Linked DNA regions of Homo sapiens. The protein of the gene in region 1 interacts with the protein of each later gene in a pairwise test. Each region holds a gene or a part of one and is shown on either strand. Other genes may lie near its edges.

Region 1 (7,022 bases):
TGTAGTCCTAGCTACTCTGGAGGCTGAGGCAGGAGTATCTCCTGAACCCGGGAGGCAGAGGTTGCAGTGAGCTGAGATCGCGCCACTGCACTCCAGCCTGGGCGACAGAGTGAGACACTGCCTCAAAAAAAAAAAAGAAAGAAAGAAAGAAAGAAAGAAATGGAACTTTCCTGGCCTTCTCCTGGGTACTTGGTGTCTAGGATGATGCGCAGAGCCTGTCCCAGCTCTCTAGATTCGTCTAGTTGGGGGCCCCTGAGGCTCAGGCAGGCACACCACCCCCACCCCCCGGCGGCCATGTCTGCAGCATTGCCCATCTGTGTGTCACCAGGGAAAGGAACACAGGTCTGGAAGAAGAAAGGAGCCATCTATGAGGGGGACTGGAAGTTTGGGAAGCGAGACGGCTACGGCACCCTCAGCCTTCCTGACCAACAGACAGGAAAGTGCAGGAGAGTCTACTCAGGCTGGTGGAAAGGTGATAAGAAATCGGTGAGCAGGCCTGCCAGCCGGGGTGTGTGTGTGTGTGTGTGTGTGTGTGTGTGCGCGCGTGTGTGTTTAGGGGAAGCCGAGAGAGGCCTGGGAGAAAAGAGAGGGGAGGTCTACAGGGAGGAGGACAGGGTTGTGCTGCTCGTGGGAGAAGGAAGGGGTGGGGGAATTGCAAAGTTTCTCAGAACAAAACCCAGGAAACAGGAAGCAACAGAAGGCCAGGGAGGAGCCCACGAAACCCTGCGGTTGCGAGGAGCCAGCCAGGCTTGTGGGGACGAAGTCGCCTCCACCCTTTTCCCCCTCGTTTCCTGGCTTTCTTTTCCCCAGGTATCACTTTCTGAGAATCCCCTTTCTGCTGGGCCTGAATAAAAGGGAGGTAGGAAAAGTGGGAGCAAGAGAGCAGGGGACAGGAGAGGAGGGTCCCGGGGGGCCGAAGCCAGCCAGAGGCGCGTGCTCAGCCCGGAAACACCCAAGCTGGGCACAGGTTCCCTCCATCTACTCCCACAAGTGTGGAGGAATCCTCACCATCAGTCCCAGAGACACTAATAATAAACAGTATTGCAACTGAGCAACTGCTACTGTGAGCCTGAAACACATATTTAAAACTTTTTTTTTTTTTTTTTTTTTTGAGAGGGAGTCTCATCCTGCCGCCCAGGCTGGAGTGCAGTGGCGCCATCTTGGCTCACTGCGAGCTCCGCCTCCCGGGTTCACGCCATTCTCCTGCCTCAGCTTCCCAGGTTGCTGGGACTACAGGCGCCCGCCACCACGCCCGGCTAATTTTTTGTATTTTCAGTAAAGACGGGGTTTCACCGTGTTAGCCAGGATGGTCTCCATCCCCTGACCTCGTGATCCGCCCGCCTCGGCCTTCCAAAGTGCTGGGATTACAGGCGTGAGCCACCGCGCCCGGCCTGAAACACATTTAATATTCAGTTAACTCTCACAGCAACAGCTCATCATCATCATCATCTTCATGCCCATTTTATTGATAAGCAAACAAGCTCGAAGAGATGAGGTGTCTTGTAACTGCCCAAGGGGTTCACCTTGCCGGTGCCTGGCCTTGAGTTGTATTATTACTCAAATCAGTCTCCCCGAACATTCCAGCAGCAGAGTTTTTAAGGATAACTTGGTGGGTGGGGGAAAGACAGTGAACCAGGAGTGCTGATTGGTCAGAGATAAAATCATAGGGAGTCAAAGCTGTCTTCTTGCTCCCCAGACAGAGCCGATTCATCAAGACGGGAATTGCAATAGAGAAAGAGTAATTAACACAGAACTGGCTGTGTGGGAGACCTGAGTTTTATTATTATTATTATTAATTTATTTATTTTTTGAGATGGAGTTTCGCTCTTGTCGCCACGCTGGAGTGCAATGGTGTGATCTCGGCTCACCGCAACCTCCGCCTCCTGGGTTCAAGCGATTCTCCTGCCTCAGTCTCCCGAGTAGCTGGGATTACAGGCATGTGGTACCACACACTGCTAATTTTGTATTTTTAGTAGAGACAGAGTTTCTCCATATTGGCCAGGCTGGTCTCGAACTCCCGACCTCAGGTGATCCGCCAGCCTGGGCCTCCCAAAGTGCTAAGATTACGGGCATGAGCCACCGCGCCTGGCCCTGGGTTGTATTATTACTCAAATCAGTCTCCCGGAACATTCTGGCTGCAGAGTTTTTAAGGATAACTTGGTGGGTGGGGGAAAGAGTAAGCCAGGCGTGCTGATTGGTCAGAGATAAAATCACAGGGAGTCAAAGCTGTCTTCTTGCCCTGAGTCAGTTCCTAGGTGGGGAGCCACAAGATCACATAAATCAGTTTATTGATTTGGGTAGTGCCAGCTGATCCATCAAGTGCAAGGTCTGCAAAATATCTTAAGCATTGATCTTAGGAGCAGTTTAGTGAGGATCAGAATCTTGTAGCTTCCAGCTGCATGACTCCTAAACCATAATTTATAATCTTGTAGCTAATGTTAATCCTACAAAGGCAATCTAGTCCCCAGGCAAGAAGGAGGTCTTCGGGAAAGGGCTGTTACTGTCTTTGTTTAAACTATAAACTATAAGTTTCTCCCAAAGTTAGTTCAGCTTAAGCCCAGGAATGGACATGGACAGCTTAGAGGTTAGAAGCAAGATGGAGTCAGTTAAATTAAATCTCTTTCACTGTCTCAGTCATAATTTTGCAAAGGCAGTTTCAGTCTTGCCTGGAGTCACACAGCTAGCAAGTGGTAGAGCCCAGGGTTTCATGTTCTCTGCTCCCAAATTGTTTATTGGCAAGTAGGAAGAGAAAGCCCTGAATAACCAATTTACGTAGAATATGGTATTAGGAGGGATGTTTTCACAGGGTGCCCAGAGGAAGGTCATCAAGCCCAGCCTAGAGAATTCAGGACAGAAGGCTAAGCACAATGGCTCACGCCTGTAATCCCAGCAATTTGGGAGGCAGACAGGGGTGTATCACTTGAGGTCAGGAGTTCGAGACTAGCCTGGCCAACATGGTGAAACCCCCGTCTCTACTAAATAAAAAACACAAAAAAAATTAGCCGGGCATAGTGGTGTGTACCTGTAGTCCCAGCTAGGGAGACGGAGACATTAGAATCGCTTGAAGCCAGGAGGCAGAGGTGGCAGTGAACCGAGATCACGCCACTGCACTTCAGCCTGGGCAACAGAGTGAGACTCCATCTCAAAATAAATAAATAAATAAATAAAACTATATAATAATAATAATTAGCTAGATGTTGTGGTGCACATCTGTAGTCCCAACTTTTCAAAAGGCTGAGGCAGGAGGATTGCTTGATCTCAGGAGGCTGAGGTTATAGTGAGCTATGGTGGTGCCACTACACTCCAGCCTGGACAACAGAGCAAGACTTGTCTCAAAAAGAGGGAATTCAGGGCAGGCTTCCTGTAGGAGGTGACACTAAAAGATGCTAGGAGTTAGCCAGGAAGAAAAAAAAGGGAGAAAGATGGGAGGCAAAAAAATAGCAAAGGGAACGAGATGTAAAACAGCAGAGTGTGTCTGCCCTGGGACAGGAGTGAGGAGAAGAGTTGCGGGGGCCCTCAGGGATATGTGGGAAATCAGGATTTTGAGGAGTAGACTTGGCTTCTCAACCCAACCTCCTCGGGTGTGATCTGCAAACAGACCTTGTTTCCCTGTGGTTGGACACTAAGTGTGGTGTTTTTTGTTTTTTGAGACGGAGTCTTTCTCTGTTGCCCAGGCTGGAGTACAGTGGCGCGATCTTGGCTCACTGCAAGCTCCGCCTCCTGGTTCACGGCCTTCTCCTGCCTCAGCCTCCCGAGTAGCTGGGACTACGGGCACCCACCACCACACCCAGCTAATTTTTTTGTATTTTTAGTAGAGACGGGTTTTCACCATGTTAGCCAGGATGGTCTCGATCTCCTGACCTTGTGATCCGCCTGCCTTGGCCTCCCAAAGTGCTGGGATTACAAGCGTGAGCCACAGCGCCCAGCCTAAGTGTGGTGTTTTTTGTTTGTTTGTTTGTTTGTTTTTTGAGACAGTCTTGCTCTGTTGCCCAGGTGGGAGTGCAATGGCACGATCTGGGCTCACTGCAACCTCCGACTCCTGGGTTCAAGCAATTCTTCTGCCTCAGCCTCCCAAGTAGCTAGTATTACAGGTGCCCACCACCACACTCAGCTAATTTTTTATATTTTTAATAGAGACAGGGTTTTGCCACGTTGGTCAGGCTGGTCTAAAACTCCTGACCTCAGGTGATCCATCTGCCTCGGCCTCCCAAAGTGCTGGGATTATAGGCGTAAGCCACCACGCCAGGCTAAGTATGGTGTTTATGTTCATTTTTCTGGGTCAAAATAAGAGTGGGAGGGGGGCGAGCATGATCAGATGGGCGATTTTTTTTTTTTTTGAGATAGCGTCTCACCCTGTCACCTAGGCTACCGTGCATTCTCAGCTCACTGCAACCTCCATCTCCCAGGTTCAAGTGATTCTCCTGCCTCAGCCTCCCCAGTAACTGGGATCACAGGCGCCGCCATCACGCCCAGCTAATTTTTTGTATTTTTGGTAGAGATGGGGTTTCACCATGTTGGCCAGGCTGGTCTCAAACTCCTGACCTCAAGTGATCCACCCACCTCAGCCTCCTAAAGTGAGCCGGTGAGCCACAGCGCCCAGCCTAGATGGGCGATTTAAAGAGTCCTCCGGCGCTGTAGGGGCTGCATGGCGCATGGTGTGGTGGGGATGAGAGAGGAGAGGGTGGGTCAGTAAGGAGGGAGTTTAATGACTGGCTGCATGGAGGCGCCAGCAGAGGGACAGAGAGAAACAGAGCATGGGGAGATCCTTCAAGACATTATCGGTGGGCACTATGGCTCACACCTGTAATCCCAGCACTTTGGGAGGCTGAGGCGGGCGGATCACTTGAAGTCAGGAGTTCAAGACCAGCCTGGCCAACATGGTGAAACCCTGTCTCTCCTAAAAATACAAAAATTAGCAGGGCGTGGTGATGCGTGTTTGTAATCCCAGCTTCTCGGGAGGCTGAGGCAGGAGAATCACTTGAACCCGGGGGACGGAGGTTACAGTGAGCCGAGATCACATCACTGCACTCCAGCCTGGGTGACAGAGTGGATCTCTGTCTAAAAACAAACAAACAAACAAAAAAGACAGGATACTCCGCTAAGACACGACCCTCCGCTTGGACGTAGGGCTGAGGAAGAAGGAAGAAGCTGGGGTGTGTGGCTCTAGGGGTGCCTGGGAAGACGGTGGGCTTTCCTGGTGGTGTTGGGGGGCGCCCTGAGTAGTAGCATCTTCGTACTTTCAGGGTTATGGGATCCAGTTTTTCGGACCCAAGGAGTATTATGAGGGTGACTGGTGTGGCAGCCAGCGCAGCGGGTGGGGCCGCATGTATTACAGCAACGGCGACATCTACGAGGGACAGTGGGAGAACGACAAGCCCAACGGGGAGGGCATGCTGCGCCTGAGTGAGTGCCCCACCCCCGCCGGCCCCGCCCACCCGACCACGCCCCCGGCAGCGAGCTGGCCACGCCCATTTGGTCCCACAGAGACAGGCCACACCCCACACTCTTGTCCCACACTGACCCTTGTGTCAATGTGGGACAAGAGAGGAAGAGCACCCTATCTCTCCCCTCAGTCACAAAAGGTCACATATATATGATGCTATTTATATGAAATTTTTAGGACACGCACCTCCACAGAGACAGAAAGTAGACTAATGGTTGCCTAGGACTATGGGGGTGGTGACATTAGTGGGTGTGGGGAATGGCTGCTTAATGGGCACAGGGTTTCCTTTTCGGGTGATTAAAACGTTTTGAAACTAGATAGAGGTAATGGTTGCACAGCATTGTGAATGTACTAAATGCCACTGAACTATACACTTCAAAATGGCCAACTTATGTTATATGAACTTATATCTCAATTTTTAAAAAAAAAGCCAGGCGCAGTGGCTCATGCCTGTAATCCCAGCACTTTGGGAGGCAGAGGCGGGCGGATCATGAGGTCAGGAGTTTGAGATCAGCCTGGCCAACGTGGAGAAACCCTGTCTCTACTAAAAATACAAAAAGTAGCTGCATGTGGTGGTATACACCTGTAATCCCAGCTACTCAGGAGGCTGAGGCAGGAGAATCACTTGAACTCGGGAGGCGGAGGTTGTCACTCAGGCTGGAGTGCTGTGGGGCAATCTCAGCTCACTGCAGCCTCAACTTCTTGAGCTCAAGCCATCCTCCCACCTCAGCCTCCAGAGTAGCTGGGACTATAGGTGCACACCACTATGCCCAGCTAATTAAAAAAATTTTTTTTTTTGCAGAGATGTGGTCTCACTATGTTGCTCAGGCTGGTCTTGATCTCCTGGGCTTATGAGCCTCCCATCTTGGCCTCCCAATGTGTTAGGATTTGCACTGAGCTCTGGAAGAGCGACCCCTGGGGGTCTAGCTTAGTTTGGTGTACCCTGCACCACACCTCCCTGTCCTTTCCCCCAGAGAACGGGAACCGCTACGAGGGCTGCTGGGAGAGAGGCATGAAGAACGGGGCGGGGCGTTTCTTCCATCTGGACCACGGCCAGCTGTTTGAAGGCTTCTGGGTGGACAATATGGCCAAATGCGGGACGATGATCGACTTTGGCCGTGACGAGGCCCCTGAGCCCACTCAGTTCCCCATTCCTGAGGTGGGCAGCCCTCACCAGGGCCCTGTGGCCACACCCAGACAGAGACAGAAGCCAGCATCCCCAGCCATGCCCAGGCCAGATCTGCCAGGCCCAGCCAAGCCCAGACAGGGAACAGACAAGGTTTTGTTTTCAGTCAGGGCATCCCTAGCAAGGGAGGTGGCTCCTGATGAGGCTGGCAGCACCCCACACGGCAGGCAGCGCCAGTCAAGGCTGGCAGCCTGGGTCCTCCATGCTCTCCAAACCAACTTCTTGGTATTTCCCTCCAGGTCAAAATCCTAGACCCTGATGGTGTGCTGGCGGAGGCCTTGGCCATGTTCAGGAAGACAGAGGAAGGAGATTGATGCCAGGTGAGGGGTGGGCACACCTGCCAAGTTCTGATGTGGCTGAGGCTGCTCCAGGGCCCAGAACAATGCACAGATC
Region 2 (7,196 bases), on another chromosome or scaffold:
GGTCATTGATTATGACAGCTGTCTACCACCTCCTTGCTCTTCAGTGTAAAATTCCTCCAAACTAGACAAAATGAAAAGGATCTGTGAAGCTGGAGGGGCTTCAGACTTGGCTAACAATCTTACACAAAAAGAGAGTAACATGCCTCACCCCTGCCAACTGCCTGAAACATGAGGCAGTATTTTTCTCAGCTCCACTAAAGAGGCTTGCACCCAATTCGTGGTTGGCCACTTCATTCTGTGTGAGGGGATAATATCTGTAAGCTGCTAACAATCCCCAGGTGCAGCTCAGATACAGAACAAAGCCAAGAGGACTGGCCACCCTCCACCCCCCCGCCCTGAAATGAGGGCCTGGTACCACCCAAGTAACACCTTAACAAGCTAGGGGTCATTAAGAGACTTCATTTGCATAGTCATCAAAGAACCAAAGCTATGGCAAGTGAAACAAAGTGTATAAAAAAAATGATTTTGTTCTTTAAGCCAAGCCAAAATCTGCTTTAGAAAAAGTAAATCCACATAGGAACCCTTGCTGTCGCCAAACCTCCACTTGTGTAGAGCAGCCAGCATCTCATTAAAGGAAAGCAAGGAACTCGCAAATGAATGCAGCACCACACACAGGCAAGCAAGCTCATTTCGCCATCTGCCTTCTAGTGTCCAGAGGGGCAAAAGGCTTAAATGACACTCTCTTGAATCTTCTCTCCTGCAGGTGGAAATGCTAAATTCCCAGGGGGCAAGAAAGACTGCTTGCAAGGTCAACTGGGTAAAAAGGAATAGAAGCAAATCTAGTTTACCTGTCAACACAATGCCACCCATGGCATTAAACACATGCAAAAATTAAGCACCCTAGAATAATTTACTTTTTTATATTTGGATAAAAGCTTTGCTGATTCAGTGTATCAGCTTTGGAGTTAAGCACAGAAGTTCCTCATGAGCCAGGCACTTAAATTTACCCTCCCTACATTATCCCATTTCCTGACCCATGACTACCCTAACTGGTGGTGACCCAGTACCTTCTTCTAGTAAATGACCTACGCAAGTGACATCAGAACTGATCTGGGGGCTGTATTAACACAATGGCAGACTTCCATTATTTATGCCACAGAGAAAGGCTATGATTAACTAAACAACTTAAGTAACTGCGCTCAGCCTTCTGTGTGTGGCCCCACCTTCCTGACAATCACTGTGTTGGCTTTTGGCTTTGTAAGCATTTTAGGCTTCCCTGTGGAAGCTCACTCCTACCAGGTTTTATATATATATATATATATATATTTAATTCATCTATTCATCTACATAGTTGAACGGCTGAATCTCTCAATAGTTTTTCAACCTCATACGCAACGTAAGACACACTTGAAGAGTGCGGCGCAAAAGGTAAAAACCAGCCTAGAGTTTTAACATGTTTCATCTAACTTCCCAACGCGTGAACAACTACCAGCGGACACAGACACGTTCAGTCTGTATTACCCCGTCCTTGGGCAGTGAGGAAGAAGAAAACCTAGAAGGAAGAAGGTATCCCAGGATAGAAGCAGCAACAGCCGGCTGAAACCCAATTAGATTGCAGGAGAAAGAGAAAAGCCCTGTCTTAGTCTGTGGCCAAAAGACCTTTCCCAATCAAATTTTTCAACACCTGGAAAATTGGCTTATCTATTTGTAGAGAGCACCCAGAGACGAGCGTTAGAGCAGCGCTACCCTGGAGTACCAGTTCTTCGGAATGTTGACCGCCGGCCACGCACCGCTTGACAGCCACGGATCCGCTGGCGGAGCCGCAAGTTACAACCCAGGCGCCTGGCAAACTCACACTACACCTCAGTAGCAATAATCCCAACGGCAGGACACCTGGGGAGGGTGGGCTCGGTCTCCCGGGCCTGGCTCAATTATGTTCCTTTACACAGCATTCAATCATGTTTCAGGAGCCGTAGGTGAGGGGCTGGAGGTGGGAGTGGGGGACACATTTTCTAGCCCCCGACGTCTCCGCGGTTGGAAACTCTGGGCACCTCTTTCGGCCAGCGCTAAGACAATACACAAAGAGCAGGGAACCGGCGCTCCTCTGCGGCCAGAGCTCCGCGCCTAGTCACGGAAGAGCTGGGAATTAAGAATTCCGAGCTCAGCGAGAGCCCTGAAGAAGCACCGGAAATGCTTCCGATCGCTTCATAAGAGAAGTCAATTTGCAAATCAAAGTTGCAGGAACTCCGGACGCCTAGACTACTTCAGCGGGTTACTCGGGAACACCCAACAAGTTTGGCCACCGGGGGCTCGGCATGACAGCGCCGCGCCGCGAGACGACAGAAGCAACTTGTCGCTCGGGCGCCAAGCCAGAGCCCTGAGCCGTCTCCGCTCCCAAGCTCGGGAGAGCACCCAAGAGCCGGCGTCGGGAAAGCGGAGGTCCCTGCCTCCGGCAGCCAAATCCCTCAACTGAAGGCACCTCAGGGGCTCACCTGGACTGCACTCGCTTCCAGGGGCTTCCCCCAACAGTGCAACGCTTCACCGCGAACGCCTCACCTGCCTGCCAGCCCCAGGTGGCGGAGAAATTAACAAAAGAGCAAGCGAACAGGGGGAAAGGGAGACCCGGCGTAAAGTATAGTAAGGAGGGGAGGGCAGGCAGCTCGGCTTTCGGCGGAGAAAGAAGAGAGAGGCGGAACAGAGATGGCTTATACCCAAGGCACCGGCTCGGGAAGGCAACCCAGAAGGGAAGAGGTCGAGAAGCGGCAATGGGTTTTCTACTCCGCTTCCCATCACACACACACACGCACACACACCTCCCCCTTTTTCCTCCTTACCCAGCATGGAAAAGATGAAATCCTTGGCTGTGTGAATCTCCAGCGCTCTCTGGTCGTCGTATTCCCGCTGGTCGTGCTTCGTAAATTCTTGGATGAGTTTGTTCAATTCCTCCACCCGAGCTCCCGACCTGAAATCCAGCTCCGGGAACGCAGGCTTGTTGTTACAGCCCAGGGAGGCTGCCTTGTTGGCGGTGGGAGCCGCCATCTTCATGCAAAACGCGCCGAGTAGCAGCTCCGCGGCAGCGCGGCACCCACCCCCGCCCCCCACCCCGCCCCCCTGGGCCTCCTCCCCTCGCAGGCTCCCAGGCTTTGGCCCCGGCTCGTGGGCGGGTTGGCGGGCGGGCGTCTGGGCGGGCAGTCCCCCGCTCCGTGCGCTCTGGGCGTGCGAGCTTCGGGAGGAGCTGGACTGCAGCGAGGGTGCGTGTGTGGCCCCGACACCCTTTTCTCCGGCCCCACGCCCGCCCCGATGCTGCGCGTCCCTGCCCTGCCCTGGCCCTCTCTGGCAGCGGCAACGGCGGTCGTAGAGCCAACTGGAGCCTCCCCCGGGCGAGGAAAGTGAAGTGGAAACAATGTGAAATTCACCAGCTCTGAAATCAACAAGCTGCCGGCTCCGGTGTTACGGAGCCAGCACCAGCGTCTCCATTTAAAGGGACAGCGCACCCAGTGGAAAGGAAAATAAATAAATGACAGAGGTCTGCACGCATATACCACTTGCCAATCCGTACTTGGGAAGACGCGCGAGGTGTGGATGCATTCTTTCTCCACCTCCACGGCCGTCCCCCCATCCCCTTTCTGGGCAGGGTTTGCCAAGCGCATTCAAGGAGAAGAAAGTCTTCCTCCGTTTGATTTTAAGGGCGGTGTCCTGGGGGAGGACATCTCTGTGCGCGTTTACCTCTCTATCCCAAGAACTCCAATACCTTTAAATAGTAAAGGAAACTGCCTTAAGGAATATGAAACCTGTCTTCTACCCTTTTCCTCTTGGATTGCCAAGATGATAGGATTGAGCGTATAAAAAAAGAGGGTCCACATCTAACCCAGTATTGGCACTCCCACTAACCCCTAGATATCCCTACCTTTGCCCAAGGTAATTAATGACCTGAATAACAGCTTATTTATCTTAACATATAATGAGTTAATGAGATTCAACCTACTCTAATATAAAGATAGGGAAACTGAAGTGTGGGTGTGGGAGAGGGGAAACAATGTATTGCCCCAGGTTCCAAGAAATGTTGGATGACAAGATGAAAATTTTCTCATTCAACAGATAAAATTTGAGTACGCACCATTTGCCAGATGGAGTGACAGAATGTGACAGTGATAACCAAAAGACATGGCTCCTACCATGGAGTTAGGCTTACATGACAAGGCAGGTTCAATCTAAGTCATAGTCCTTTAGGCAGAATAGAGTCTCAGAGGTGGTTTTAGTGTTTATGGGGTGTATCATTCAAACACTTAGGAGGCCCATTGGCTGTGAGAAACATAGGTTATCTTCCTCCCTAATTCTCCAAAATCTCTCTTCTCTATCCCACAGTCCCTGATTTAGATCAGGTCTGTTTCACTTTCTTACCCGAGTTCTCATGGCCAAGAATACAAATTGTTTTGTTAGACATGGAAGGAAGTACGGACTCTTCCATGCCTTCCCCTATAAAATGGGAATAATAATTCCTGTCTCACAGGTTGTTTTAAGGATTACGTGAGATAAAACAGGTCAAGCACTTAGTTCAAGGACTGACATAATAAGTACTTAGCTATTATCAGCTTCTACTATTATTGTTATTAATTCTTTCACTGTTCCTCAATCTAGTAACAACTTGTTGCCAGAGTGATCTTTAGAAAACACAGACCTGACCACTGACCTCCCCCTGGAATTCCTCTCTTCTTTACTCCGTTTACACCAAAACCAATCCGCGTCTGCCTTTTTCTTACAGCTTTCCGGAGACCCTCCCCTCAAGCTGGTGGCAACTTTTCCTTCCTCAGAACCTACTCTCAGAAGCTTTCATATGATGCTAATGAATTTTGACCTTGCTTCATCATTGCTTTTTGTTTTGGGTTGTGTGTGTGTGTGTTTGTTTGTTTCTGAAACAGGGTCTTCCTCTGTAGCCCAGGCCAGAGTGCAGTGGCACAATCGTGGCTCACAGCAACCTCAACCTCCTGGGATTAAACAGTCCTTGCATCTAGATCTCTCAAAGGGATTACAGGCGTGAGCCACCACACCTGACCACTTCATCATTGTTAATGCAAGTTTTAGACTAAAAGATTCTTGGGGATGAGGGCTACATCTTATTCATCTTTGTATTTCCTGCAGCATATGGTCCTACCGAAGGGTCCTCTATGTTTATTGAATCAAGTAATGAGTGAAGAATTGTGGCATAACCAGTTAATTTCTCTTACTTTTCGTTTCCTTCTCTTTGAAACACACTTCCTCACCCACTCAGTATGAAAGAGAGAGGATCCATGCCTAGATAAATGCTGGTGGACTGATGAGGAAGTGACTTAAAAACTCTGGTTTTTAGGCAGGGCGTGGTGGTTCACGCCTCTAATCCCAGTACTTTGGAGGCCGAGGCGGGCAGATTGCCTGAGCTCAGGAGTTCGAGACCAGCCTGGGTAACACGATGAAATCCCATCTCTACTAAACATACAAAAAATTAGCCAGTTGTGGCGGCGTGCACCTGTAGTCCCAGCTACTTGGGAGGCTGAGGCAGGAGAATTGCTTGAACCCAGGAGGCGGAAGTTGCAGTGAGCCGAGATCGCGCCACTGTACTCCACCCTGGGTGACAGAGTGAGACTCCATCTCCAAACAAACAAACAAACAAACAAACAAAGCAAGCTCTGGCTTTCGCAGCTCTGCTATGCTGCCCTGACTTCTCATCCTGAGAGGATATTAACATTACCTGGGCAGTACTAGAAGCCACATAAGTGTTTGGAACTCCAGCACAAAGTGATCCACTCCCATCTGTCAGTGCTTCACTAGTGATCAATGGCAGGCACCTGTGCGACAGCTGGCTGAGGCAGTCATTCCATAGAGCAGAATGGTTCTAGTTACCTCCAAACCATGTACAGTTAAGAAATACTTCAGACAACAAAATCGAAACACTTTTTATTTGTTAATTTCCAAACATATGAATGAGGCATCACTAATCTTCCCTTAATTTTACCTTTTCTTATGATATTTATATCCATAAAGAAACAACAGGTTGTTAGCAGAAAGTATTCCTGTTGTGCCGTAGTGCTGGACCCTGGGGGTTTGAATGAGTGAGTGGTCTCTCTGATGTTCCTCATTGTCTGTTCTCCTTCCCGTCAGCCAGATCAGATTTCTATGAATCATGGACCCTCAGTGAGCCCGCATATCCAGATAATGTAATTGGATGGTAAACTAACACCTTCCTAGGCTCTAATAGAACGCTGATAAGATTGTGTCAATATCCCTTGTTGAATTAGAAGAATAGAGAAAAACGATCAAAAACCATAATTTCCTGAATTGATCTATTGGGAGACTTTTTAACCTCTGAGCTTCTCAAGGGCAAGTACTGTGTTTCTTCACCTGTGTAAACACTGCATTTAATTTAGTTCTTGACCCATCTTATGACCTTAGTTTATATGTTCAAATGAATATATAAAAGAATGAATGAAGCCGGGCACGATGACTCACACCTGTAATCCCAGCACTTTAGGAGGCCAAGGCGGGCAGATCACAAGGTCAGGAGTTCAAGACCAGCCTGGCCAACATAGTGAAACCCCATCTCTACTAAAAATTCAAAAATTAGCTAGGCATGGTGGCATGCACCTGTAGTCCCAGCTAGTTGAGAGGCTGAGGCAGGAGAATCGCTTGAACCCGGGAGGTGGAAGTTATGGTGAGCCGAGGTTGCACCACTGCACTCCAGCCTGGGCAACAGAGGGAGACTCCTTCTCAGAAAAAATAATAATAAAAAAGAATGAACTAATACCATCCCTCAAAGTCCAAGAAGTCAGAATTTAGGTGATTTTTGCTACAATTTAAATATCTCAATGTAAGCTATCTATGGTTTCCCAGTATTTAGTTAAGTGTTGTTATAAATGTAAGTATTTCTGCATGCATTTAATTAAATGCCCCAATTTTTATGCCTTTTTCTCCCTGTGTATGTTATATGACCTAAGAGAAGGAAGAGAGATAGAGAGGAAGGTGGAGAGAGAGAGAAAATCATTATTAGAAGATGTTAAAGAGTGTCTGAGGCTTGAATAAAAATGCATATCTCTAGAATTTTGACAGATGGACAAAGGTCAGTGGAGTCTACCATCTAAACAAGCACTAAGGTAGGCTTTTCCTTTGCTGGCTCTTGCAGCATCAAACAGAACAGAGTAACAGCCTGCATTTCCAAACTGCTGTCACACTTAGAGGTAGAACTTGCCCTTCTACTCCCAACTCCCAAATTTTATTAGCATGTG

Evidence for each region. Proteins that work in one complex are often made in the same cells at the same time.
Region 2: the proteins of MORN3 (region 1) and MB21D2 interact in binary tests that used the Homo sapiens proteins (3 or more experiments, as listed by UniProt).

Annotation. Positions count from the first base shown.
Region 1 is NC_000012.12:121,652,655-121,659,676, reverse strand, and holds part of MORN3 (MORN repeat-containing protein 3), read left to right. Parts: intron 1-328; coding exon 329-486; intron 487-5,243; coding exon 5,244-5,403; intron 5,404-6,417; coding exon 6,418-6,602; intron 6,603-6,868; coding exon 6,869-6,943; 3' UTR 6,944-6,949; intron 6,950-7,022. UniProt on the Homo sapiens protein: Assembles a suppression complex (suppresome) by tethering SIRT1 and MDM2 to regulate composite modifications of p53/TP53.
Region 2 is NC_000003.12:192,914,856-192,922,051, forward strand, and holds the start of MB21D2 (nucleotidyltransferase MB21D2), read right to left. Parts: upstream 3,002-7,196; 5' UTR 2,986-3,001; coding exon 2,775-2,985; intron 1-2,774. UniProt on the Homo sapiens protein: Probable nucleotidyltransferase that catalyzes the formation of cyclic dinucleotide second messenger in response to some unknown stimulus.